Linked DNA regions of Homo sapiens: all the other regions are linked to region 4. Evidence: fine-mapped expression QTL. A gene starts in region 4. Each other region holds a variant in brackets. All regions are shown on one strand. Distances are between the middles of the regions.

Region 1 (4,070 bases), 46 kb before region 4:
TAGCTCTAACAACTGTTATAATATTGGAGGGGAATGTAGACCAGGTTTTGTCCTTAGGGAGGAATCTGCCCCAAAGTGTCAAGACTTTCTTTTGTCATTTCCAGGACCTCATCCTAAATTACATTTCTTATTGTAGCACCTTTTCTGCTGCCATGACAACCATGCAAGGAATGGAACAGACCACTCCAGGGGCTGGCCCTGATGTGCCCCAGCTGGGAAACATAGATGTCATACATTCATATCTGTGTAAAGGATTGCAAGAGAAGTTCTTCAAGAGGAAACCCAAAGTCCTTGGGGTAAGTCAATTGCAAATCTGGGAGAAGACCAATAGTGTTGTAAACTCACATTTGATCAGAGCTAATGCCCAATACACTGTCCCGCTAGCCTCATAATACATCAACCAGCCCTAGTAACATCAGAATTTAATTTCAGGCCCTTTCTTTGAAAAAATATATAATATTCTATCACATCCTGCTTCCAAATTAATTATATTTAAAATATATTGACTTCAGATCTATTCTAGGGTTGTGGGTCAGCCATGATAATTATATTTAACTTCAATATAGAAGAACGGCAAAAGAAAAGGCCCACCTGTCCACTAGCTGACTCCCCCTCCACAGGCCTTCCTGACAGCTGATAGATGTATATTGCTACTCTTTCTTTCTTGCAGCTTTTCTTAGCCTACTGCTCAGAGGATGAAAAATCTGCTATTCTCTGAGCATTTCCTTCTGGAGTCTCAGGCGAACGTGTCTAAAAACAATATAGAATTAAAACAGTGACAGGTTAGGGAAGGTGAAAGAACATTAAATATAGGTTTATCACTAGCCCAAGCTTCAAACCACTGAGAAAATGTCACTGTGGATTCTTTGGATTCCTTCTCTTTTTTTGCATTATTCATTTTTTTGGAGAGAAATATAGTTACTTCTCATAAAATATGTTATTTATGTTGGCACATACTAGGTTCAATTTTTAAATGTATGGATAATTATTTTAAAATATACTGTATGTTTTAGAGCAGTTTTAGGCTTAAAGAACAATTGAGAGCAAAGTACAGGTATATCCCATATGCCCCTTGCCCCGACACATGCATAGCTTTTCAATTATCAACTTCCCCCACCAGAGTGGGACATTTGTTCCAGTTGATGAACCTATGTTGACACATCATTACTCAAAGTACACAAATCACAATGGGGTTCATTCTCTGTGTTGTGTGTTCTATGGGCTTTAACAAAGGCATAGTGATATGAATCTACCTTTATAGTATCATACAGTATCCCACCAATCCCTGGCAATCACTAATCTTCTATCGTCTTCATAGTTTGCCTTTTCCAGAAAGTCATACAGTTAACATTATAAATTAGGTAGTTTTTAAAGACTGCCTTCCTTCACCTAATAACATGCATTTAAATTTCCTCTATGTTTTCTTATGGCTTAATAGCTCATTTATTTTTAGTACTGAATAATATTTCATTGTCTAGAGGTACCACAGTTTATTTATGCATTCACCTACAGAAGGACATCTTGATGGCTTCCAAACTTTGGCAATTAGGAGTAACGTTGCTATAAATATCTGTGTGCAGGTTTTGTGTGGACATAAGTTTTCAACTCATTCGGGTAAGTATGATTACTATATTGTATTG[T/C]AAGAGTATGTTTAGTTTTGTAAGAAACTGCCAAACTGTCTTCCCTGTTACTTTGCAATTTTGAAGATTTCAGTCAACAATGAAGGAGAGTTCCTGCTGTTCTACATAATTGCTAGCATTTGATTTCCTCAATGTTCTGGATTTTTTACCATTCTAATAGGTGTGTAGTCCAATCTCATTACCATTTTAATTTTCATTTCCCTGGTGACATAAGATGTGGGGCATCTTTTTATATGTTTATTTACCATCTCCATATCTTCTTTCTTGAGGTGTCTTATTAAAGTTTTTGACACATTTTTTTAATTGGGATGTTAGTATTCTTAATGTTGAGTTTGAATTTCGTTGTATATTTTGAATAACAATCCTTTGTCAGGTATGTTTTTTGCAAATACCTTCTGTCAGTCTGTGGTTTATCTTTTCTTCTGACAGTGTCTTCTGCAGAGCAGAATTTTTTAATTTTAATAAAATTAAGATGATTAATTCGGTATTTCATGGGTTGTGCCTTTGGTATTGTATTGACAAACTCATCACCAAAACCAAGGTCATCTAGATTTTGGCCTATGTCATCTGTTAAGAGTTTCAGAGTTTTGAGTTCAACATTTGGGTCTGTGATTTATTTTGAGTTAATTTTTGTGAAGGATACAAGGTATGTGTCTAAGTTCAATTTTTGCCTATGGAGGTCCAGTTTTTTAAGTAGTATTTTTTTTTTGGAAAGACTATTCTTCTAATTGTATTATCTTAGTTCTTTATCAAAGATCACTTGACTATACTTCTGTGTCTATTTCTAGGCTTTCTATTCTATTCCCTTGATCTATTTGTCTATTTCTTTGCCAATATCACACAGTCCTGATTACTATCACTTTATAGTTTGTCCTAAAGATGGGTAGTGTTACTCCTAAAACTCCTTCTTCTTCAAGATTGTTTTTGTTATTCTAAGTCTTTTGCCTTTCCCTATAAACTTTAGAGTCAGTTTATCAATATACACAAATAATTTGCTAATATATATATATATATTTTGAGATGGAGTCTGGCGCTGTCACCCAGGCTGGAGTGCAGTGGCCCAATCTCAGCTCACTGCAAGCTCTGCCTCCCGGGTTCACACCATTCTCCTGCCTCAGCCTCTGGAGTAGCTGGGACTACAGGCGCCTGCCACTATGCCTGGCTAACTTTTTGTATTTTTAGTAGAGATGGGGTTTCACCATGTTAGCCAGGATGGTCTCAATCTCCTGACCTCGTGATCCGCCCGCTTCGGCCTCCCAAAGTGCTGGGATTACAGGGGTGAGCCACCACGCCCGGCCATTTGCTAATATTTTGAGGGAGATTGCATTAAATCTACAGATTAAATTGGGAAGAACTGATGTCTTGACAATGTTGAGTCTTCCTATCCATGGACATGGAATATCTCTCCATTTATTTAGTTATTCGACTTATTTTTTTTTAAGTTTCTCTTATAGATTTTGTACATAGTTTGTTAGATTTATGCCTAACAAACACCAAATACCAATACCTAAATATTTAATTTTTAGGGTTGCTAATTTAAATAGTATTGCATTTTTAATTTCAAATTTCACTTATTTACTATAAGTACATAAGAAAGTAATTGACTCTTGTGTATTAAGCTTGTATCCTACAACCTTAATATAATCATTTGTTAATTCCAGGAGTTTTTGGTTGATTCTTTCAGATATTCTACACAGACAATCACGTCATCTGTGAATAAAAGCAGTTTTATTTTTTTCCTTACCAATTGTATACCTTTATTTCCTTTTCTTGTCTTACCATTTCAGCTATGACTTCCAGTAAATGGTAAAAGGAGTAGTGACAGGCTTATCCCTGCCTTGGTCCTGATCTTAGTGAGAAAGCTTTGAATTTCTCCATTAAGTATGAAGTTAGCTGTAGTTTTATTAATAAATATTCTTTATCAACCTAAACAAGTTATCCTCTATTAATAGTTTTTCAAAAGTTTTTATAATAAACAGGCATTGGATTTTGCTCAATATTTTTCCTGCATCTGTTGATATAATCATGTGATTTTTCTTCCTTTTAGCCTGTTGATGTCATTAGTTACATTCATTGATTTTTGAATGTCTAGTCAGCCTTGCATATCTGGGATAAATCCCATATGGTTATGGTATATAATTCTTTTGATACACTATTAGATTTAGTTTGCACATGTTTTGTTGGGAATTTTTGCATCTTTGTTCACCAGAGATGTTGGTCTGCAGTTTTCTTTTCTTGTAATGTTTTTGACTTTTTTTTTTGGTAGATAATAGTGCTAGCTCCATAGAATGAGTTAGGGAGTATTTCCTCTTTTTCTGTTTTCTGTAAAGAATTGGTATAATTTCATTTTCAAGTGTTTGGTAGAATTCCAAACCTTTCCAGGCCTGGTGCTTTCTGTTTTGAAAATTAATTAATTATTTATTTTATTTA
Region 2 (4,070 bases), 56 kb before region 4:
GATGATGGCTTGGCACGAGGAGATGGGAGAAATACAGAGTTAAAAAATGGTTGCGTAGAATTAGAATATGATTGATGGAGCATAGAAGGTATGTAACGGAAGGTATCAATGACAAACTACCAGACATTTAACACAGACAACTGAGCTAATTGTTGGGCCTTCTACCAAGAAAGGACATTTGCAGTCGCATAGCCCTCTTAGCATTCCTGTTACCTTTAGCTCTTGCCTCTCTTGATTAGGGACTGCTTGTAGTGTTCTGAAGTAATCTCCACATAATATTCCTTGTGCCACCTTCCTTTATCTGAAAGATAAATTTTGAGGAAGACTGAATATCTTCTAATTTGGTCTTCTAATGTTTGAAATAAAAATTACCTCTTCTCTTTGCTGGAACAATTTGATAAATGATCAAATTATGGGCTTTATTATAGTGACTTCAAAATTAACCCCAGAGGGGGACAATTCTCTCAAGTTCAGCAAAATTTGAGGGTATGGATTCAGTTTAAGACCAAAAATAAGGCCTGCTATTTTATTTTATTCGTTTGCTCCAAATCTAAATTTTGTATTCTGTTCAGGGGATGCTGAAGTCTACTTATAGGTTTGATTATACCTACTCAATAAAATGTAAATGTAAGTCACCTCATAAACTCCATTATCATTAGAACAGAGATTACAAGAGGAAGAGGAGGGCCTCTTGGCCCACCTCTACATAGTCTTGTATCTACCTAGTCCATGAGAGCAAAAACAAGCACAACCCTGACTCTTCTGACCAATCTTTGAGACAAACTGCAAAAGAGAGGAAGAGTCAACCTCTGACAACACGGTACCATGAATAACATGCTCTCACCAGTTATATAGACCCCTCCTTTCTGCTTTTTCACTTCCCCCAAGACAGGACAGGTTGGAGCAGGGTCATGCCAGGAATAAAGCCCCTCTTTAGCATGTCCTTGAGTGGTAGGAAGTGTTAGAGGAAATTTATGTTTTATACTTCAAGCCAGAAATGAGTAAGTGATAGTAGGAAGACCAATAATAATAGTCAATAGGTAGTTAGTATTTATTAAGTGACATGAACTGGTTTAAATGTTTACCTGTGCTATTTCATCATTAAATTTCTCTACGAGATATGCTGTATTATTCACAGAGTAGAGTTACAGAAACACAAGATTAATTAACTTGAGTAAGGAGTGGCAGGGCCAAAATTTAAATCCGGGTAATTTAATTCCAGAACTCGTTTGCTTAAGAGGATCCACTACACTAGTCTGGCGAATAGAAGAACTCTTTTATTTGCACATTTATTCATTCCTCAGTTGTTGGACATTTGGGTTGTTTGCACCTTTTGACTATTATAGGTAATACTGCTAGGAAAATTCATTTTACAAGTTTTTGTGTGGACATATGTTTTTATTTCTCTTTGTATGTATCTGGGAATGGAAGGGATAGGTCGTAAGGCTGGTTCATGGTTGACATTTTGCAAAGAATCAGTTAGGGAGGAATCCTCCTTATGTTTTAGGAATAGTTTCAGTAGGATTAGCTCTTTGGTATTTATTAGCTCTTCTGTGGTATAAACACTTCTTTGTACATGTGTTAGAATTTGGATGTGAATCTATAGGGCTCAGTAATCTAATCTTCCACCTTAATAAACTGGAAAAAGAAGAACAAACTAAATGGAAACAACTTGTAGAAAAGAAATAATAAAGACTAGAGTGAAAATAATAGAGAGTAGAAACACATTAGAGTAAATCAACAAAACCCAAAGTTCATTCTTGCAACGATCAACAAATTTGAAAAACCTTTAGCTATATTGAATGACAAAAATTACAAGAAGAAATCACTAAAATCAGGAATGAAAGAGGCAGCATAATTACCAAACTTACAGAATTAAAGAAATTATAAGGGATACTATAAAATTATATCCAAATAAATCAGATAACATATGAAATGGTCAAATTTTTATGAAGATACTACTAAAACTGACTGAAGAAGAAATACAAAAATAAGAAGAAATACAAAATCTGAA[T/G]AGATCTGTAATAAGAGATTAAATGAGGAATTTTAAAAACTTTTATAAAGGAAAGCCCAGGCTCCTGTGATTTCACTGGTGAATTTTACTAAACATTTTAAAAAGAATTAATACCCTTCCATCAAAAACTAGAAGAGAAGGGAACAATTCCAAACTTATTACATAAGGCTAGTATTATTTTGACACCAAAATCAAGAAAAGACAACATAAGCGAACAAAACTACATATGAATGTCTCTCATGAATACAGACACAAATGCTAAAAAAAAATTAGCAAGCAGAATTCGGCAACATGTAAAAAAGATTATATATGAGGACAAAGTCAGATTAATCTCAAGAATATAAAATTTAGCATTCAAAAAATCAGTGTTACATAATGCATTAATAGAATAAAAGACAAAAACCGCAAAAAGCCACCACGAATGCCTCAATAGATTAAAAAATTAACAAAATCCAATACTTTTTATGATAAAAATACTCATCCAATGACGAATAGAATGGAATCACTCCCCTACCAAATAAAAAGCTATTAGAATTAATGAATGAGTTAAGCAAGCTTGAAGGATACAAATAATATACACAAATGAACAGACACTTCAAAATAAGATGTACATGCGGCCAACAGTCATATGAAAAAATACTCAACATCACTGATCATTAGAGAAATACAAGTGAAAACCATAATGAAATGCCCCCTTACACCAATCAGAATGACTATTAACAAAAAGTCAAAAAAATAAAAATAACAGATACTAACGAGGTTATGGAGAAAAAGAAATATTAATACACTGTTGGTGTGAGTGTAAATTAGTTTAACCACTGTGGAACACTGTGGTGATTCCTCAAAAACCTAAAAACAGAAATACCATTCAACCCATCAATCCCACCGTGGGTATATACCCAAAGGAATAGAAATCATTCTATTTTAAAGACACATGCACACATATGTTCATTGCTGCACTATTCACAGTAGCAAAGACATGGAATCAACTTAAATGCCCATCAATAGTAGGCTGGATAAAGAAAATGTGGTATATATACACCATGAAATGCTATGCAGCCATAAAAAAAGAACAAGATCATGTTCATTGCAGGAACATGGATAGAGCTGGAGGCCATTATCCTTAGTAAACTAACACAGGAACAGAAAACCAAATACTGCATGTTCTCACTTATAAGTGGAGCTAGATGATGAGAACACATGGGCACATAAAGGGGAACAACACACACTGGGGCTTATTAGAGGGTGGAGGCTGGGAAAAGGGAGAGGAGCAGAAAAAATAAATTATAGGTACTAGGCTTAAAACATGGGTGATATGGTTGGGCGCAGTGGCTCATGCCTATAATCCCAGAACTTTGGAAGGCTGAGGTGGATGGATCACCTGAGGTCAGGAGTTCAGGACCAGCCTGGCCAACATGGTGAAACCCATCTCTACTAAAAATACAAAAATTAGCCGGGCGTGGTGGTGCATGCCTGTAGTCCCAGGTATTCGGGAGGCTGAGGCAGGAGAATTGCTTGAACCCTGGAGGCGGAGGTTGTAGTGAGCTGAGATCACACCACTGCACTCCAGCCTGGGTGACAGAGCAAGACTCGGTTTCAAAATTTAAAAAAAAAAAAAACCTGGATGATAAAATAATCTGTAAATCAAACCCTATGACACAATACCTGTATGACCAACCTGCACATGTACCCCTGAAGTTAAAATAAAAGTTAAATTAAATATATATACATACAAAAATAAATTGGAGTTCTATATGCTAGCACTGAATAATTTAAAAATGAAATTAAGACAACAATCTCCTTTACAATAGTTTCAAATAGAACAAAATTTATCAAAATAAGCACAAGACTTGTACATCGAATACTACAAAATGTTAAAAGAAATTAAAGAAAATTTAAACAAATGAAAAAAAACTCATATTCAGGAACTGGAAGGCTTAATATTGGTAAGATGGTAATATTATTCAAATTGACCTACAGATTCAACACAATCTTTATAAAAAATTCAAGCAACCTTATTTCAGAAATTTGCAAGCTAATTCCAAAATCATATGGA
Region 3 (4,070 bases), 400 kb before region 4:
TTTTTGTCATTACATTTATTATTTTTAAAAAATTTATATAGGTTTTTGGGAACAGGTGGTATTTGGTTACATGAGTAAATTCTTTAGCGGTGACTTGTGAGATTTTGGTGCACCCATCACCTGAGCAGTATACACTGAACCCAATTTGTAGTCTTTTATCCCTCACCCTCTCCCACCCTTTCCCCTGAGTCCCCAAAGTCCACTGTATCATTCTTATGCCCTTGCAGCCTCATAGCTTAGCTCCCACTTATGGGTGAGAACATACAATGTTTGGTTTTTCATTCCTGAGTTACTTCACTTAAAATAGTAGTCTCCAGTTCCATCCAGGTTGTTGTGAATGCCATTAATTTGTTGCTTTTTATGGCTGAGTAGTATTCCATTGTAAATGTATACCACAGCTTCTTTATCTACTTGTAGATTGATGGACATTTGGGCTGGTTCCATATTTTTTCAATTGCAAATTGTGCTGCTATAAACATGTGGGTGCAAGTATCTTTTTTGTATGACCTTTTTTTTTCCTCTGAGTAGATACCCAGCAGTGGGATTACTGGATCAAATCGTAGTTCTACTTTTAGTTCTTTAAGAACTCTCCACACTGTTTTCCATAATGGTTGTATTAGTTTACATTCCCCCACCAGCATAGAAGTGTTCCCTTTTCACTGCATCCATGCCAACATCTATTTTTTTTAATTTTTTTATTATGGCCATTCTTGCAGGAGTAAGGTGGTATCACATTGTGGTTTTGATTTGCATTTCCCTGATCATTAGTGATGTTGAGCATTTTTTCATATGTTTATTGGCCATTTGTATATCTTCTTTTGAGAATTGTGTATTCATGTCCTTAGCCCACTTTTTGATGGGACTGTTTGATTTTTTCTTGCTAATTTGTTTGAGTTTCTTGTAGATTCTGGATATTAGTCCTGTGTCAGATGTGTAGATTGTGAAGATTTTCTCCCACTCTGTGGGTTGTCTGTTTACTCTGATGTTTACTCTGCTGACTGTTCCTGTTGCTGTGCAGAAGCTCTTTAGTTTAATTAAATCCCACCTATTTATCTTTGTTTTCGTTGCATTTGCTTTTGGGTTCTTGGTCATGAAGTCTTTGCCCAAGCCAATGTCTAGAAGGGTTCTTCCGATGTTATCTTCTATATATTTTTTTTTAGATTTAAGTCCTTGATCCATGTTGAGTTGATTTTTGAATAAGGTGAGAGATGAGGGTCCAGTTTCATTCTCCTATATGTGGCTTGCCAATTCTCTCAGCACCATTTGTTAAATAGGGTGTCCTTTCCCCACTTTATGTTTTTGTTTGCTTTGTCAAAGATACACCAACTGTAAGTATTTGGCTTTATTTCTGGGTTCTCTATTCTGTTCCACTGGTCTATGTGCCTATTTTTATACCAGTGCCATGCTGTTTGGGCTTTATAGTATAGTTTGAAGTTGGGTAATATGATGCTTCCAGATCTGTTGTTTTTGCTTAATCTTGCTTTAGCTATGTAGGCTTTTTTTTTTTTTTTTTGGTTCCATATGAACTGTAGGATTGTTTTTTTCCAGTTCTGTGAGGAACGATGGTAGTATTTTGATGGGAATTGTGCTGAATTTGTAGATTGCTTTTGGCAGTATGGCCATTTTCAAAATACTGATTCTACCCAGCAAATGAGCATGGGATGTTTCTATTTATTTCTGTCATCTATGATTTCTTTTAGTGGTGTTTTGTAGTTTTCATTGTAGAGGTCTTTCAACTCCTTAGTTAGGTGTACTCCTAAATATTTTATTTTTTTTGCAGCTATTGTAAAAGGGGTTGAGTTCTTCATTTGTTTCTCAGCTTGGTTGCTGTTGGTGTATAGCAGAGCTACTGATTTGTGTACATTAATTTTATATCCTGAAACTTTGCTGAATTCATTTACCAGTTTTAAGAGTTTTTTGGATGAGTCATTAGGGTTTTCTGGATATACAACTGTATCATTAGGAAACAGCAAGAGTTTGACTTCCTCTTTATTGATTTGGATGCCTTTTATTTCTTTCTCTTGTCTGATTGCTCTGGCTAGGACTTCCAGCACTATGTTGAATAGAAGTGGTGAGAGTGAGCATCCTTGTCTTGTTCCAGTTCTCAGAGGGAATGCTTTCAACTTTTCCCCATTCAGTATTATGTTGGCTGTAGATTTGTTAGATGGCTTTTATTACATTGAGGTATGTCCCTTGTATGCCAATTTTGCTGAGGGTTTTAATAATAAAGTGATGCTGGATTTTGTCAAATGCTTTTTCTGCATCTATTGAGATGATCATGTGATTTTTGTTTTTAATTCTGTTTATGTGGCGTATCACATTTATTGACTTGAGTATGTTAAAACACCCCTGCCTTCCTGGTGTGAAACCCACTTGATCATGGTGGATTACTTTTTTG[A/C]TATGCTGTTGGATTTGGTTAGCTAGTATTTTGTTAAGGATTTTTGCATTTATGTTCATCAGGGATATTTGTCTGTAGTTTTCTTTTTTTGTTATGTCCTTTTCCTGGTTTTGGTATTGGGGTGATACTGGCCTCATAGAATGATTTAGGGAGGATTCCCTCTTTCTCTGTCTTTTGGAGTTGTGTCAGTAGGATTGGTACCAATTCTTCTTTGAAGGTCTGATAGAATTCTGCTGTGAATCCAACTGGTCCTGGGCTTTTTTTTTGTTAGTAATTTTTAATTACCATTTTAATCTTGCTGCTTGTTTTTGGTATGTTCAGAGCTTCTATATCTTCCTGGTTTAATCTAAGAGGGTAGTAAATTTCCAGAAATTTTTCCATCTCCTCTAGGTTTTCTAATTTATGTGCACAAGGTGTTCATAGTAGCCTTGAGTTAACTTTTGTATTTCTGTGGTTTCAGTTGTAATATCTCCCATTTCATTTCTAATTGAGCTTATTTGGATCATCTCTCTTTTCTTGGTTACTCTTGCTAATGGTCTATCAATTTTATTTACCTTTTCAAAGAGCCAGCTCTTTGTTTCATTTATCTTTTGCATTGCTTTTTTCCCCCAATTTCATTTTGTTCTGCTCTAATCTTGGCTATTTCTTTTCTTCTGCTGGGTTTGTGTTTGGTTTGTTCTTGTTTCTCTAGTTCCTTGAGGTGTGACCTTAGATTGTCTATTTGTGCTCTTTCAGACTTTTTGATGTAGGCATGTAAGGGTATGAACTTTTTTCTTAGTACTGCCTTTGCTGTATCCCAGAGGTTTTGATAGTTTGTGTCACTATTATTCAGTTCAAAGAATTTTGTAATTTCCATTGTGATTTCATTGTTGACCCAATGATCATTCAGGAGCAGGTTATTTAATTTCCATGTATTTGCATGGTTTTGAAGGTCCCTTTTGGAGTTGATTTCCAATTTTATTCCACGTGGTCTGAGAGAATACTTGATATTATTTCAGTTTTCCTAAATTTATTGAGACCTGTTTTGTGGCCTATCATTTGGTCTATCTTGGAGAAAGTTCCATGTGCTGATGAATAGAATGCATATTCTGCAGTTGTTGGGTACAATGGTTTTGTAAATATCTGTTAAGTCAATTTCTTCCAGGGTATAGTTTAAATCAATAGTTTCTTTGTCGATTTTCTGTCTTGATGACCTGTCTAGTGCTGCCAGTGGAGTATTGAAGTCCCCCCTATTATTGTGTTGCTATCTCATTTCTTAGGTCTAGTAGTAATTGTTTTATAAATTTGGGAGCTCCAGCATTAGGTGCGTATATATTTAGGACTGTGATATTTTCTTGTTGGACAAGGCCTTTTATTATTATATAAGGTCTATCTTTGTCTTTTTTAACTGCTGTTCCTTTGAAGTTTGTTTTGTCTCATAGAGGAATAGTTACTCCTGCTAGCTTTTGGTGTCCATTTGCATGGAACATCTTTTTCTACCCCTTTCCTTTAAGTTTATGTGATTCCTTATGTGTTAGGTGAGTCTCTTGAAGGCAGCAGATACTTGGTTGGTGAAGTCTTGTCCTTTCTGCAAGTCTGTATCTTTTATTCTAATTCTGTCTTCTGAACTCTACATTCCATGTCCAACAGGCTACTTGACATCTCCAGTTGAATATTAAATAAATACTTCAAA
Region 4 (4,065 bases):
CATCATTCCGAAGGGTTCTGTGCTAGGAACCTTACACGTGTTGTCTCACATAATCCTTAAAACTCAGAAATGATTTTAAATTAAATAGCACAGAGAGGAAAACTGACTGGAGAGGGAGCCTTTGCTTAGGTAGGCAACTTTAACTGGTTTATTAGCACATTCCCCTGAAGGGAAAGGGGGTGTGATTGCTCCTGAAGAGACCAAAGAGACTGGGCTCCTTTTTAATCAAAGCTCAGGAGGAGAGCTGCATTCCACTGTTTCACAGATGCTGTGAGGGTGACAAAGATGCAGGGCACCCACTGGAAACACAGACGGCACTCTGCGAAAGAGGAAGGGGCGCCAGGAGCTTGGGTGAGCAAGGTTGGAGGTGATTCTGCCCCTCTCCCCAGGCTTTCTGTGTGAGTCCATTCCTCCTCTCAGATTTATTGTTAGAACTTAAGACAAGCCAATTACATTTCATAATGTCTGTGTCATTCAGACGCTGAGAACTAATCCAGCCTTCTAAATGGTGCTTCTTAACTCCTTTCTTCAACAGGAGAGTTAATGTGTGGAATTAAGTGCAGAATCCATGGCCCTCTGTGGTGACGGTGATGGTTCAGGTTGTGTTTCTGGGTTCATTCTGGAAGCTCCCCCAAGGAAAGGAGGAAGGAAGCTTGCAGGGTGGGGCTTTGCCATTGCCCTGACTGGCTCTGGTTTCCTTGCCTGATACATTGAAGTCAGCTTCCAAAGAATGCCACCCAAGGTTTTGAAGGGGCACAGTGCCTCTGTCCTCACAAAACCAGCCTGCATATGAGTTTACTGAATTCATTTAGGTCCTGCTGAATCTTTCCCATTTGTTCCTTCTCTGTTTCAATATTTCAATGCTTCCCTGGAGGGGCCCAACCTTTCTGGAGGGCAAAGATCTGTTGTTAGAGAAAAAGAGCAGCCAGAGGAGGAAGATGACTTGAGGGTAGGCAGCAGTTGGGCAATCAGTATTGAAAGGTTGCTTTCAGCCTGCCAAGACTTGGGGAATTAGAAAAGCAAGATAAAACAAAACAAACAAACAAACTATATATATAAAAAACAATTTTTTAAAAGTTTTTTTATGTTCTATATTACTATTAGCTATATATTAATGAATGTTCCTTTAAAGCAGTGTAGTCATTATTGCTATTATTATTATTATGGTTAGTTATAGACAGTGGAATATTGTTCTTTCTCTATATTATGATTACTAGCACTATTACTGTTATTAGTTACATGTTATTGAAAGCTTCAAAGCAGCATAGGCTTTTTATAAATATTTTTGCTCATCTTTATGACAATTCTCCAGTGTTGGTATTGCTCCTCTATTTAACAGATTAGAAAACTGAAGCTTCAAGAACAGACTTGCCTAACAACAGGAAACTTGTATGTCTCGAAGTGGCAATTCACACATAAGGCTCCATGACTCCTGAACTCTCACAAATATTAGTTGGCTCTTTTCATGGTTTTACTGAAGTTGCTAGAAGTTTACAGAAAAGGAAGTGCAGGAACATTTCACAAATCTACAATCTGTGAGTATCACATCCTGTATAGCTGTAAACACTGGAATAAGGAAGGGCTGATGACTTTCAGAAGATGAAGGTAAGTAGAAACCGTTGATGGGACTGAGAAACCAGAGTTAAAACCTCTTTGGAGCTTCTGAGGACTCAGCTGGAACCAACGGGCACAGGTAGGTAATGCTGGAAGACTTTTCTCATCTCACTATTCCCTTGCCGTGACCTCATTAGAGGAGTAATTTAACTTGAAACTCCTTGACAGCAGTTAAGAGACACTAGGGCCTTTTGGAAATAGAGTGGGCAAATGGAAGGAGTATCTGTTTTTAACTCTGTGTCCGCTGTATTCTAATTGCATAAACTCAGTGAGTCACTTACCTAAGGTTGTGTAATTAATGGGAGCAGAGCTCTTGTCTCTTCAAATGTGTTTAGACCATTTGTAAACTGGGCGGTCTGTGCTTTGAGAATGGTGCCGTGAAAAGGGATCCAAGCTGAGCTTAGCAACAAATACCACAACCTACTTGGTCTTTATGCTAAAAAGTGGGGAGGACCAACGACGCGAGCCTATGTGTTATGAGTCCAAGACTTGTTCTCATACCACTGCATGCAGCTGTTTCTCCAGCCTGAGTAAACTCAGACACAGGCTGGCAATGCCAGGTGGGAAATTAGGAAGAGGTAGAATGATCTAGAGATTTATGCAAAGGCTTCAGACTCCAGGAAAGCTGAGATCCAAGACTGGTTTTACAGCTTCCCGGCTGTGTGAACCAGGGTGAACAATAAGGGTAACTGCAAATATTTCTTCAGCATTAACTCTGGGCCACACATATATGCAATAGGTATATTATTTGCATTCATAACTTAAACTTTATTTTGCATTTTCTTATTTATTACATGTTTTTACTAACTTACTAACATGCAGAGCTGTTGTAAGGATTAAAAGCACTGCAGGGTAAAAATTAAGAATGTGTCTGGTAAAATATGATAAACATATCTGAGTGCTAATAAATAGTATTATTAAACAAGAAATAAGTAAGCAGAGTTCATTTATTAGTCTGAAAATTCATCAAATATATGGCAATACAGTTGTTGTCAGTAGGACTAGAGGAAAGGGAGGTTGTTGCATATTGCAAATTTTGTGTGACCATTTGCCTCTGGACATTGAGACCTCTCAAGATTCATGTTGCTGCCACCCTGTGATGTGTTTATTATCTATAATGGACTGTGTCAAACATTATGGAAAAATCCTCATGAAACCAAGATTGTGTGGTTTTCACTGTTCCATACTATCAGTTTCTTTCTCTAATGGACAGGCCAAGCCTAGACTAATTGGCAAAGACTGAGTTACTGTTTTTGGAGTCAGAACCTGGGAGCTCTGTACTTTTTAAGAGCTAAATCTATTTTTTCTTACATAGTTGGCAACACCATCATGACATCACAACCTGTTCCCAATGAGACCATCATAGTGCTCCCATCAAATGTCATCAACTTCTCCCAAGCAGAGAAACCCGAACCCACCAACCAGGGGCAGGATAGCCTGAAGAAACATCTACACGCAGAAATCAAAGTTATTGGGGTAAATCTAATTCAGAACGTGTTGGAGAGGGGTTGGGGGAAGTGCCAAGAGATGATATATGTCTTGGGACTGGACATCTGTCGTGAGTGTGGAGACCCTAAAATTTTGCTAGAGGGACTTTAGGGTAGAAGCCACTTGGAGAAAACTGTCCCAGAACTTTTCCACAAGAGGTTGTCTTAAAAATATATTTTCCCTTATTCTGAATATGAGGAATTGATTTTCTATTGTTGTCTTTGTATTTTTACAATACAGTGCTTTTCTATATTTTCTTTTACAAAAGTAATGGTGGTAAATAATGACATATTGTGTGTATGTGTATATATTCCACAACTGCATGCTTAATAATCCAAACTGACTTTTTGCAAATAATTTTTCCCTCACTGCAAATTAGAGGAAATATACAACTCCTTTTCCTCTTTTCTCCTAACGTTTTTGAGAATGGAAATGATATTCACCTTTTGTTTGTCTGTTTCTCCTCTCACCCAGAATTTATTAAAGAAGCTGTATTGCATGAAGGGAGGAGAGAAAGAAGGGATCTATCTTGGATTGGGAGGGAAACACAGAGTTTTGGTTTCTAGAATTGCCTCTGCACTTATGTGATCTGAGGTGAGGCACTCTGTTTGACTGGATTTCAGGACCTGGTGGGACTGGTTTCCTTGCCTCATGTACAATCACATGGGTTTCTATGAGGCTCATGTGACATAAGGTCTAGAAAACTTTTTGGTAAATGATAATAGAGCTGTGAATCTCTGAGGTGGATGTCAGGAAGGAAAACTACCTCCTAAGACAGAGCTTCAGTTATACATGAGAACATGCAGTATTTGGTTTCTGTCCCTGTGTTAGTCTGCTAAGGGGGATGGCCTCTAAATGATGAGAACACATGGACACGTAGAACAGAACAATGCACACTGAGGCCTTTCAGAGGGTGGAGGGTGGGAGGAGAGAGAGGATCAGGAAAAATAACTAATGGATACT
Region 5 (4,070 bases), 470 kb before region 4:
ACTTGGGAGGCTGAGGCAGGAGAATCATGCTCTTTGGTGGACATTAACATGGGACACAAATATCTTTATGTGTTTTGCCTATTCAGAAGTCTATCCACAAACCTGTTCTCTAGACTCCTATGTCACCACTTTTCTAATCATATTCGTTTCAAGTCCCTGACATTCCAGCCACACCATTGGCCACAGCCCATGAATTAGTATATAGTCACACACCCGGCTATTTCTCCTTCCAAGCAAAATATACAACCTCGTGTACTGCTTGAAGTTCTGTCCACTGGGAAGATTTTTCTTCATTATTTTCTTCAGGAATGCCTCAGAAAGGGGCTACAGTGCTACAGCTGTCTACTTTGGGGTTGTGCCTGGGTATTATGCAACCTTGGCTGGTCATGTTTCTTTACCTGACAGGATAACCCAAACCTTTAATCCTGAAGAGTCTGGGCCATTCATAGGCTTGCCTGGATTGGGTTGTTGTAATTTCCCATTGACCTTAATCATGGGGCATGACAGTACTAAGAGACATCTTAAAGGATCTCCTGTATTCCAGACATATTCATTTTTGCCTCTATTCATTGTGAAGTAGTGGTCCAATTTCCCCTTGGCATCCTGGATTGATCACCCTAGCTAACATCGTTAACTCTCATTTTTGCCTGTTGACTCAGAGGCATGTAGGTATGCCCTGCATTCTGATAGTGTACTGGGTAGGTCTCAACCAGCTGGAGATAATAATATATTTGATACGTTGAGAATTTTCCTAGTGCAAGGTTTAATGTTGCTGACTTAAATGCAAATGTGATTCAAGGTCCCACAAATATTGGATAATACAAAAGGGTATAGTATTCTAAGATTGAGGAGAGCTGAGCGGGAGATCATTGAAGCAGAATGTGACCCACCTGAGCTGAATGTAAGGGGCACATGTTGACAGTACAGTGCCCCAGGGTCTACAGCCTTTTCTGGTTTTAAGCCCATTACCTGACCACTTTATGATTGATGAGCTTTGATTCAAACTGTTTACAGACACAGGCAGAAAATGGACCTCTCATATATCAGCAAACACAGAATGTATTTGTTAGAACCCTGGGTGGATTGTGGTAACGTTGAACTATTCCGGAATGTTTTTTTGGGTCCGTCACATTTGAGTCCAATTAGCTTTAGGCTAGTTATCATCACCTTAGGACACTTTTGTCAATTCTCCTTCCTTTGGGGAAGATGTGGTCAATGTCTTTTCCTTTTTCTATTAGGAAGAAGCAACACTAGTCATTTATTAACCCAAGTAGCACTTAGTCCTTACCCCCATTGCTTTGGTGCCTTCTTTTAGGATAAATCTTCTCAGCATTTTAACAGAGATATTGTATAGCAGTTATAGAGGATGAATGGACTCCTTTGCTATAGAGAAATATAGAGAACAAGTAATACTAATGATTATTTTGAGATAAGGCACTTGAAATGGAAGCCTCTGATTTTCCACTGCTTAGCAATTCCTTGCAAAAAGCTTTTTGCATCAACCCACTGACACTATTCTCTGCTAAACAGCAATAACTTCCTGGCAAAAGCCAAAAGCTACCTCTTAGATTTTATTCTTCTGTAATGACCTTAAAATGAGACTGAGTAGATACCTTTTGATGTAGCTGACCCACTCCCATTATTTTCGTCTTTCCTAGAGAAGTAAACTGTAACAGAAAAATGTAAAATGTGGTATGG[G/A]GTGTAAAAGTGTAGAGGTTTTGTATGCAAGTGAGGTTGGGTTGTCATCAGCTTAAAATAGGTATATCTACAAGATTTTTTATTTAAGCCTCATGGTAAATACAAAAGAAAGCCTATAGCAGCAACCTACAGAATGGGAGAAAATCTTTGCAATCTACCCATCTGACAAAGGGCTTAATATCCAGATTCTACAAAGAACTTAAACCAATTTACAAGAAAAAAAAAACCCCATCAAAAAGTGGGCAAAGGATATGAACAGACACTTCTCAAAAGAAGACATTTATGCAGCCAACAGACACATGAAAAAATGCTCATCATCACTGTTCATCAGAGAAATGCGAATCAAAACCACAATGAGGTACCATCTCACACCAGTTAGAATGGTGTTCATAAAAAAGTCAGGAAACAACAGGTGCTGGAGAGGATGTGGAGAAATAGGAACACTTTTACACTGTTGGTGGGACTGTAAACTAGTTCAACCATTATGGAAGACAGTGTGGCGATTCCTCAGGGATCTAGAACTAGAAATACCATTTGACCCAGCAATCCCACTACTGGGTATACACCCAAAGGATTATAAATCATGCTACTGTAAAGACACATGCACACGTATGTTTATTGTGGCACTATTCACAATGGCAGAGACTTGGAACCAACCCAAATGTCCATCAATGATAGACTGGATTAAGAAAATGTGGCACATATACACCGTGGAATACTATGCAGCCATAAAAAAGGATAAGTTCATGTCCTTTGCCAGGACATGGATGAAGCTGGAAACCATCATTCTCAGCAAACTATCACAAGGACAGAAAACTAAACACCTCATGTTCTCACTCATAGGTGAGAGTTGAACAACTAGAACACGTGGACACAGGGTGGGGAACATCACACACCAGGGCCTGTCAGGGGGCTGGGGGAGGAATAGCATTAGGAGAAATACCTAATGTAAATGATGAGTTGATCGGTGCAGCAAACCAACATGGCACATGTGTACCTATGTAACAAACTTGCACGTTGTGCACATGTACCCTAGAACTTAAAGTATTAGAAAAACCAAAAAAAACCCAAAACAAAACAAAGAAAGCCTATAGCAGATGTGAAAAAGATAAAAAAAAAATCAAAGCATATCACTACAAAAATTCAACAAATCACAAAGGAAACCAGCAAGATTGGAAGAACAAAGGAACTACAAAACAGTCAGTAAACAAATACCAAAATGGCAATACTAACTCTTCACTTGTCAAACATTACCTTAAATGTAAATAGATTAAATTCTCCAATCAAAAGACAGAGTGGTTGAATGAATAAACAAATAAGACCCAACTCTATGGAACCTATAAGAGACTCACTTCACCTTTAAAGACACTCTTAGACTAAAAGTGAAGGGATGGAAAAAGATATTCCACACAAAGGGAGACCAGTGCATGGGTAGCTATCTTATATGTGTCAAGATAGACTTTAAGTAAAAAATCGTAAAAAGAGACAAAGTAATTATATAGTGATAAAGGGGTCAATTCATCAAAAGGACATAACAATTGTAAATATATATGCACCCGACATTGGAGCACCATATAAATGTGTGCATATATATAATATTAATAGATATGAAGGGAGCAATAAACTGCAATTCAATAATAGTAGGCAACTTCAATATCCCACTTTCAGCAATGGACAGATCATCCAGACAGAAAATCATTAAGGAAATCCTGGACTTGAACTACACTGTAGACCTAATAGACCTAATATACAAATAAAGAACATTTCTTCTAATAGTAGCAGAATACACATTCTTCTCAAGTACTAATGGAACATTCTCCAGGATACATCATATATTAGGCTCCTCTCAAGTTGTATTAGTCCATTTTGTGCTGTAATAGAATACCACAGACTGTGTAATTTATTGGCTCAAAGTTTTGGAAGCTGGGAAGTCTAAGATTGAGGAGTTGGCATCTGGCAAGGGTCTTACTGTTGTGTCATCCCATGGTGGAAAGGCAAAGAGATGGTGAGAGATAGAGAGGCAAAAGAGGACCAAACTCTTCCTTTTATAATGAACCGATTCCCTCAATAACAAAGCCACTCCAGTGATAAGGCATTAATCCATTCATGAGAGCAGAGACATCATGGATGAATCACTCTTAAAGGTCTTGCCTCTTAATATTGATAAAACGGCAACTAAATTTCAACACGATTTGGGAGGGGACAAACCTTCAAACCATAGCATTTATCCCATAGTCCCCCAAAACATATGTCCTAATATACAAAATGCAGTCATTCTATCCCTAGAGACCCAAAGTCTTAACTTGTTCCAGCAACAGCTCAAAAGTCCAAAGTCAAGAGTATCATCTAAATCAGATATAGGCATGAGATTC
Region 6 (4,070 bases), 350 kb before region 4:
ACCATATCAGGTGGGAAGAGTGGGAACAGTCCCAAGCTAACATGCCACAGACATGCACTGTTCTTACTGAGGTCCAGTAGATTTTCTTAAATAAACACTTCTCAAGTTCTTGTATGCTTGGTCAACTTCCTGAATCTTTAGAAGGTTGTTCATTGACAATTTTGTTCAGTTTTATAATTTCATTTTTAGGGAGAGTTACCATGTCCTCAATCAGCCATTCTGGAAATGCAACTCATTCCCTCTCTTCAGAAATCCTTTTACCATGTAGTCTTATAGTTGTTTCTGTATTTCAATCAGTTGTTGATCATAGTAGTCTTCCTTGACCATCCTACATAAAATAATCTTGCCTTATCTCCTTAGTTTGCTTTATTTTACTTCATAACATTTTTCAGTTCTTGACATTTTATAATTTTATGTGTTTGTTTATTGCCTTTCTCCCCCAGTGGAATGCAAACTCCCTAATGGAGAGGCCATTGTTTTGTTAATCATTGCATCCTTAGTGCCTATGACAATGCCTAGCAAATAGCATGCTCTCCGTAAATATTTGAGAAAGAATGAATGAATGTTAGATATGTAGTCTTTTAAGCTTGTGAGAAAATAATCATTCTCATAAACTTTTGTGAGTTGTTATAGCATTTTGGGATGTTGTTACACTTGATCCTGCAATGACATTTCTAGGAATCAAACACCTAAAGAATTAGTGGTCCTGTATGCAAAAATATTTATACTCAAATGTTCACTGCATCATTGTTTATAATTTAGAAAAAACTGGAAACCAAGCTACATATGCAGTAATTAGGGAATGCTAAATACTAAGAAAAACAATGAAGGCAATAAAAGGCATTATTTAGATATGTTTTGTAATGGAAAGATATTTCTAATCATTGCAAAAAATGAATGTGACAAAATAATGTGAATATAATACATACAATTAGTAAAGAGAATGTGTGTGTATTCGTCTTTTTTTGTATAGAATTGGATGTGTGGATACGATGAGAACTATATTAAAGAAAAATCACTTTTTACTCTATATGCTTTTTGCTTTTAAATGTAGTTTCATGTATTACTGTTATAATTTTATGCTATTTATAAAATAACAAAAATAAAAAATAAAGGCAATATCACACATTCCATTTATATTAGTTCTAAATATTTTGTATCAGTGCACTTCATCTTCTCATAGAGTGTAGTTACTAGAAATCAACATCTTTTGATTTGCCAGAGAGTGGGTAAACACTTACCAAATTGGAACAGCTGTATATTGAGTGTGTAAGTGCAATAGAAAATTCCAAACCGTAGAAGAACAGTAAAATACGTGATACTTCCCTCCCAAGTTTCTATAACCAAAAAACAGGGAGAAATCTTAATGCTATTATCTTTAGTGAGTGCAAACATGATCATGGAAGGAGCTACTGGTATGAGAGTCAAAAAAAAAAAAAAAAAAAAGGAAGGAAAATAAGAACAGATAAACCTTTCACCATTTGATTTCCTTAGACATTTCTACTCCTTTGCCCTCTGCTACACTTTCCCTAGCTTTCAGTTCCTCAATTCAGCATCTGTGGCTTCTGCATTTGATCTCCATTGCTTAGCATTCTTGTCTCACTTCTGACAGCTTTTACAGAGTCGCTGGCACAGCTCACTATCTAAACTCTCCAGTTAGTAAGATTTGACTTTCCTGTCTCTAATGATAAGATGGCCACCAACAGATTTATCAAGCAATCCTTTTCTATTAAAACAGCTATTATTAATCACAACCCTTCTTAAATTTACATACATGGTGATAAAACTCTCACATATATATTGCTCTAATATCATTTAAAATGATTA[A/G]TACATTCAAAAAGAGTTCAAAGAACATTTAACTTGGAAGCATAAGGTGATTGTGACTGCTGGGATAAATAAAACAGATTCCCTTCTGTTGCTATCAGAAAGATATTTTCAACTACAAATCCGATTGGTTAGTTATGTGAATAATATTGGTACTCATCCTGAAAATGTGGGTTTTGTGCTGGCTGTGGAAAGACAAGAATGATACTCAGAACTAGAAAGAATGACATCATAATTCTCTCCCTTTCAATTCCTTCTCTAACTCTTCCTCCTCCTTCTTTGTTTGGTTTATTTAATATCTTTTATATTCAAGAAACTATCTGGTAGTAGGAATTAGATGATAGGAATGCAATGACACATAACTTCCTGATTTCTTAGAGTTTATAATGAAGTAGAAGAGACAGAAAGATAATATAAGGTACCATAAAAAATGGATAAAAACTTGCTCAATCATTATAGGGGACAGGAGGGACAGGAGGTTCACTCCAAGCTATTACTCTCTGGGAAGGCTTCATAAAGTGGTAGGACCTTTGAAATAAGGGTAGGACTGAGAAAAACGAAGGAAGGAAACAGCATTCTAGGCAACTTTAAATTTTTATTTGCTTGTTTCCTTGTAACCTATCTTGTTTCAGAAAGAGTTTAATAGCATAAATTAAAAGTGTGACAAAATAATTTAAAAATTGAGACATAAAATACAACCAGTAGAGTAAAGCTAAAATACATATTTGAACAACCTATGGTTTTTAATGTGAGAACAAAACTGAGTGTAAGCAATATAACATTTTGAGAAAATGAAAAACAGGTTTTAACTGAATTACAGTGTTCATTCATATATGATATAAACAGGAGGATAAGGAAAAGATGTAGAAAGTTTGAAATACCAAGGTAAATAATTTTGATTTACTTTTGTTGGCAGAAATGCACAATCATAATCATAACATTTTAGCTAGAAAGTACTTGGGACCTCTTAGCTGACAAGACTGTGAAAAGTCATTTTACCCATATTCCTTATTTTTTTTAATTTTTTAATTTAATTTATTTTGAGACTGAGTCTCGCTCTATCACCCAGGCTGGAGTGCAGTGGCGCAATCTCGGCTCACTGCAACCTCTGCCTCCTGGGTTCAAGCGATTCTCGTGCCTTAGCCTCCGGAGTAGCTGGGATTACAGGTGCCCACCGCCATGCCCAGCTAACTTTTGTATTTTTAGTGGAGACAGGGTTTCACCTTGTTGGCCAGGCTGGTCTCGAACATCTGATCTCAAGTGATCCGCCTGCCTTGGCCTTCCAAAGTGCTGGGATTACAGGCGTGAGCCACCGTGCCTGGCCCCATATTCTTTAATTTATATGAGAGTGCTATTCTAAAACTCCCTCCCTGACTGAAAGCGGCAAAAGGTTGGCCAGAGCAGCTCAAATATGAAAACTGAGGAAACGGAAACACACACACACACACACACACACACACACACACAGAGAGAGAGAGAGAGAGAGAGAGAGAGAGAGAGAGAGAGAGAGAGAGACGGAATGAATGAGTTCCTGGCAGATGATGTAAACTGTAAGCTTCTGGACCCAGCTTAAGTAAAGTAAGTGACCCTTTTTGCCTTAAGTCAACTTGGGTTGTATTTCCTATTACTTAAAACCAAGATAACCCTAATTAATAAATACTTAAATGAAGAATAAGCAATATTTGGTAATTATAAAGACAGTAGAAAGAGATGAGGTATTATGTCAAGGTTTTGTATGTGGGAGATTGAAACGAGGGAGTCTTGCAGTATAGTACTTCTGAGGAGGTAAGTAATTTCCATTTTATATCTGTTGAGTTTGATATAATAGTGATAGAAACATAGCCAAGTAGAAAAGTCAAACTAGCTTTTAAAACAACAGGCCGGGAGTTTGGAAGAAAGAACAGAGCAGTTAACTAGCAGGCATTTTCTTCATTTCTCACAAAAGAAAACTTGGAAACAGTTAAGTTAAGAAACTTTTCCAGGGGTTTACACACAGTGAGTACTGAGGATAGTATTTAAATAAGTGCACTCTGATCCTGGAATCTATACTATTAACCATTTTGCTATATGAGGAGTATATTTCAGATGCATGCACTTTTCTGACCCTGCCTGGGAACACTGAAAACTTGATGACTTTGTAGATTTAGCCAAGCCCCTTGCTTATGTGAGAAAAGTTGGCATGTAAAAGTCCTGTAAAATGTTGGCTGCCTTAGCAAGTGTAAGTATATAATTCTGTAATGACACTA
Region 7 (4,070 bases), 40 kb before region 4:
TCAGTAAGGGTAATGGACTTGCCATTACTGGCTTAGACTGATTAAGATTTACCTCTGTAGCTGGGAGGAGTCTACACTACCTTTTAGCTCAGGAAAAACTGAAGAAAATGATGGTTTAGTTAGCAAGGAAAAAGAGATGTGGCTGGTAAACAGGCAGTTTCTAATATAGAGTCTACTGACTATCAAATCTCAGGAAATTGTTACCTTAGAAAATTAAATTGTTATTTGATACATTTTGTTTCATAAGTTTAATAACAGTGACTATGATTAATATTAAATTAAAATTAGAATTGGAATTTAAGTTTAAAAACCTTTTCCCAAGAGAAAACACAAGAGAGTTTTGATGCAAATTGAAAGTAAAATTGAGAATAAAATACCAAGTCTTACCTATTGACAAAAGAAAAATAAAATTTATGAGGCGGGTTTATGTTAGAATCAAGGAATCTATTCTAGCATTATAGGGTTTCCATTTATTTCCAAAACTGAGAATGAGACAGTTTAGAGTTTTATAATAGAGCTTAATTTTTGCTCCCCTTCACTCGTGTACAGCGGAAGTGAAAGATTTGAAGGAGAGTGTATTAGTCAGGGTTCTCTAGAGGGACATAACTAATAGGATAGATGTGTATATATATAAAAGGAAGTTTATTAGGGAGTATTGAGTCACACAATCACAAGGAGAGGTCCCACAATAGGCCATCTGTAAGCTGAGGGGCAATGAAGCCAGTTTGAGTCCCAAAGCTGAAGAACTTGAAATCTGATGTTTGAGGGTAGGAAACATGCAGCACGAGAGAAAGATGTAGGCCAGAGACTAAACCAGTCTAGTGTTTCTATGTTCTTCTGCCTACTTTTATTCTGGCCACACTGGCAGCTGAGTAGATTGTGCTCTCCCAGATTGAGGGTGGGTCTGCCTTTCCCAGTCCACTGACTCAAATGTTAATCTCCCTTGGCAACCCCTTCATAGTCACATCCAGGAATGATATTTTGCATCCTTCAATCCAATCAAGTTAACATTCAATATTAACCATCAAGAGTCCACCCCTTGTCAACCTGAACCCACACACATCTCCTGAAGTCATACATGATTTTCAAATAAAGAAAATAAAGACAAAAGGCCAAAATTATGCCTAACATAATGCAGCTATTTTTTGTACAACCCAAAATGCACCAATCCCCTATACAAATGCTATTACCTAAAGTTAACAACACTTAAATGCTAATATGAAGTTAATAGGTCTTATGTCACATGGTAAAGAAAAAAGAAAGAAAATAAAATGAAGATATTTTCTTACTACAAATGTATACATGCACAAACATGTTCTTAACAAAAGAAGGAGGAAATACTCATGACAATTACGGTCTTCATTTCTGCAACTGATCACATGGTTGTAGCTGGTATTGATGACAGCCTTCTTCTACCACCGATTCTGTATTCCCTTTGCCTTCAGGAAGCACCTCAGCAGGTTGTGTTTTTTTTTTTCCTGGTGGAGTGACCAAAACCTTCATTCCAGAAGGCCTAGTCTGGGCCATTTGTAGTCCTGCCCAGATTGGGTTGTTGTAGTTTCCCATTGACCTTAATCATAGGGCATGGTAATACTAAGAGACACCCTAAGGGATCTCCTGTATTCCACACATACTTCCTTACCTCCATTGTGGAGTAGTAGACTAATTTTATCTTGATAGTCCAGGTCAGTCACCCTAGCCAACACTGTAACTCCCTTCTTAGCTGGTTGACTTAGAGGTAAGAGGAGCCCAAAATGGCCAGGTGGCAATCTTAACTTCCAGCTTAATGAAATCATTGTTGTCTCCCGGTGGCAACGTTCCTTCCTCTGGAACTAAGACCTCTAGGCCAGCAGAACATAGTGTTGTGGAAACAGGAAGCAAAAATTTTGCTGGTAGGTCACTAGGGGTGATGGTAAGTGGTGCCACTTCCACTTATACCCCTTGATTTCTGGACCCACAAATCTTGGCTATAGCAGAAACAGTACCTTATATTAGACGCTGATTCAGAGCATGCACAGCCTTCTGGAGAACATTGCCCCAGCCCTGAAAAGTATTGTCACCTGGTTGATGTTGTAATTGTGACTTCAAAAGGACATTCCACCATTCTATCAATCCAGCTGCTTCAGGATGATGGGAAACATGGTAAGACCAGTGAATTCCATGAGAAT[G/C]AGCCCACTGCCGCATTTCTTTAGCCAACAAGTGAGTGCCTTGGTCAGAGGCAATGCTATGTGGGATACCATGACAGTGGTTAAGGCATTCCATGAGTTCTTGGATTGTAGTCTTGCCAGAAGCATTGTGTGCAGGATAGGCAAACCCATATCCAAAGTAAGTGTCTATTCTGGTGAGGAAAAACCGCTGCCCTTTCCGTGATGGAAGAGGTCTAATATAATCAACTTGCCACCAAGTAGCTGGCTGATCATTCCGAGGAATGGTGCTATATTGAGGGCTCAGTGCTGGTCTTTGCTGCTGGCAAATTAGGTGCTCAGCAGTGGCCATAGCCAGGTCAGTGAATGGAAGTCCATGTTGCTGAGCCCATGCATATCCTCCATCCCTGCCACCATGGCCACTTCGTTCATGGACTCATTGGGCAATGACAGGGGTGGCTGGAGAAAGAGGCTGACTGGTGTCCATAGAATGAGTCATCCTGTTTACTTGATTATTAAAATCCTCCTCTGCTGAGGTCACCGTTTGATAAGCACTCACATGAAATACAAATATCTTCACAGTTTTTGACCACTCGGAGAGGTCCATTCACATACCTCTTCCCAAAATTTATTTGTCACCAATTTTCCTATCATGCTTCTTCCAAGTCCCTGACTACTCAGCCAAACCATTGGCTATAGCCCATGAATCAGTATATAATTGCAGATCTGGCCATTTCTCCTTCCAAGCAAAGTGCACAATGAGGTGCAGTGCTCAACATTCTGCCCACTGGGACGATTTTCCTTCACCGCTGTCCTTCAGGGATGTCCTAGGAAGGGGCTGTAGTGCTGCAGCTGACCACTTTGAGGTGGTGCCTGCATATCGTGCAGAGCCATCTGTAAACAGGGCCCTTGTCTTCTCTTCCTCTGTTAATTGATCCTGGGGAACTCCCCATGAGACCATCAGTGCAGGCTGGGGGAGAGAAGGCAGTGTGGCAGGAATGGGGATCATGAGCATTTGTGCCACTTCCTCATATAACTTACTTGTGCCCTCAGGAGTTGCTCAAGCCTGATCACATATATGCCACTTCCATTTGATGATGGAATGCTGCTGTGCATGCCCCACTTTTGGCTAGACAAGTCAGAAAGCACTCAATTCATGATAGGTAGTTCAGGTCGCATGGTGACTTGATGACCCATAGCCAACCGTTTAGTTTCTACCAAAGTCCAGTAACAGGGCAAGAGCTCTTTCTAAAAAGGAAAGTAGTTATCTGCAGAAGATGGCAGGGCCTTCCTCCAAAATCCTAGAGGCCTCTGCTGTGATTCATCTATGGGGGACTTCCAAAGGCTCCTAACAGCATCCCTCTCTGCTGCTGACACCTCAAGCACAATTAGATCTGCTCTGTTCTATGGCCCAAGTGACAGAGCAACTTGCATAGCAGTTTGGACCTGTTGCAGAGCCTTCTCCTGTCCTGGACCCCACTCAAAACTGGAAGCCTTTCAGGTCTCTTGATTAATGGGCCAAGTAACACCCCCAGGTAACGAATGTGTGGCCTCCAAAACCCAAATAAGCCCACTAGGCATTGTGAGTCTTTCTTGGTTGTAGGGGGTGGGGGCAAATACAGCAACTTATCCTTCACCTTAGAAGGAACATCTTGACAGGCCCCACACCACTGAACCCCTAGAAATTTTACTGAGGTAGAAGGTCCCTGAATTTTAGTCATATTTATTTCCCATCCTCTGGCATGCAAATGTCTTACCAATAAGTCCAGTGTGCTTGCTACTTCTTGCTCACTGGATCCCATCAGTATAATGGCATCAATATAATGGACCAGTGTGATATTTTGTGGAAGGGAAAAGTGATCAAGATCTCCCTGAACAAGGTCATGACACAAAGCCAGAGAAGAGTTGATATACCCCTGAGGTAGG

Evidence for each region. PIP is the estimated chance that this variant, and not a neighbour inherited with it, causes the effect. A credible set is the group of variants that fine-mapping cannot tell apart.
Region 1: its variant is the best candidate, but not a certain one, in a credible set for the expression of MS4A6A in whole blood (TOPMed, PIP 0.63).
Region 2: its variant is the best candidate, but not a certain one, in a credible set for the expression of MS4A6A in whole blood (TOPMed, PIP 0.75).
Region 3: its variant is the best candidate, but not a certain one, in a credible set for the expression of MS4A6A in whole blood (TOPMed, PIP 0.50).
Region 5: its variant is the best candidate, but not a certain one, in a credible set for the expression of MS4A6A in whole blood (INTERVAL, PIP 0.81).
Region 6: its variant is the best candidate, but not a certain one, in a credible set for the expression of MS4A6A in whole blood (TOPMed, PIP 0.50).
Region 7: its variant is the best candidate, but not a certain one, in a credible set for the expression of MS4A6A in whole blood (TOPMed, PIP 0.75).

What each region holds. Positions count from the first base shown.
Region 1 is chr11:60,226,138-60,230,207 of GRCh38, reverse strand. MS4A4E (membrane spanning 4-domains A4E) reads left to right here. Exons shown (of 9, transcript NM_001393391.1): 2 at 137-296; 3 at 1,581-1,614. The coding sequence starts at 153. Among named protein-coding and RNA genes, the nearest start is that of MS4A4E, 15 kb to the left of the region's middle. The variant T/C (reference allele first, on the strand shown) is at 1,641.
Region 2 is chr11:60,236,297-60,240,366 of GRCh38, reverse strand. All of the region lies in intron 1 of MS4A4E (membrane spanning 4-domains A4E), which reads left to right. Among named protein-coding and RNA genes, the nearest start is that of MS4A4E, 4.8 kb to the left of the region's middle. The variant T/G (reference allele first, on the strand shown) is at 2,015.
Region 3 is chr11:60,579,957-60,584,026 of GRCh38, reverse strand. It overlaps the pseudogene MS4A19P. Among named protein-coding and RNA genes, the nearest start is that of LINC00301, 34 kb to the left of the region's middle. The variant A/C (reference allele first, on the strand shown) is at 2,399.
Region 4 is chr11:60,180,606-60,184,670 of GRCh38, reverse strand. It overlaps MS4A6A (membrane spanning 4-domains A6A), which reads left to right and starts at 1,588. Exons shown (of 6, transcript NM_022349.4): 1 at 1,588-1,693; 2 at 2,930-3,090. The coding sequence starts at 2,944.
Region 5 is chr11:60,651,002-60,655,071 of GRCh38, reverse strand. LINC00301 (long intergenic non-protein coding RNA 301) reads right to left here. Exons shown (of 7, transcript NR_026946.1): 5 at 1,289-1,383. The region is part of intron 4 of LOC105369321 (a long non-coding RNA gene); the gene reads left to right. Among named protein-coding and RNA genes, the nearest start is that of LINC00301, 37 kb to the right of the region's middle. The variant G/A (reference allele first, on the strand shown) is at 1,699.
Region 6 is chr11:60,526,632-60,530,701 of GRCh38, reverse strand. MS4A13 (membrane spanning 4-domains A13) reads right to left here. Exons shown (of 7, transcript NM_001012417.3): 6 at 1,242-1,337. Among named protein-coding and RNA genes, the nearest start is that of MS4A13, 13 kb to the right of the region's middle. RefSeq lists a silencer at 1,488-1,637. The variant A/G (reference allele first, on the strand shown) is at 1,828.
Region 7 is chr11:60,220,458-60,224,527 of GRCh38, reverse strand. All of the region lies in intron 3 of MS4A4E (membrane spanning 4-domains A4E), which reads left to right. Among named protein-coding and RNA genes, the nearest start is that of MIR6503, 13 kb to the right of the region's middle. The variant G/C (reference allele first, on the strand shown) is at 2,169.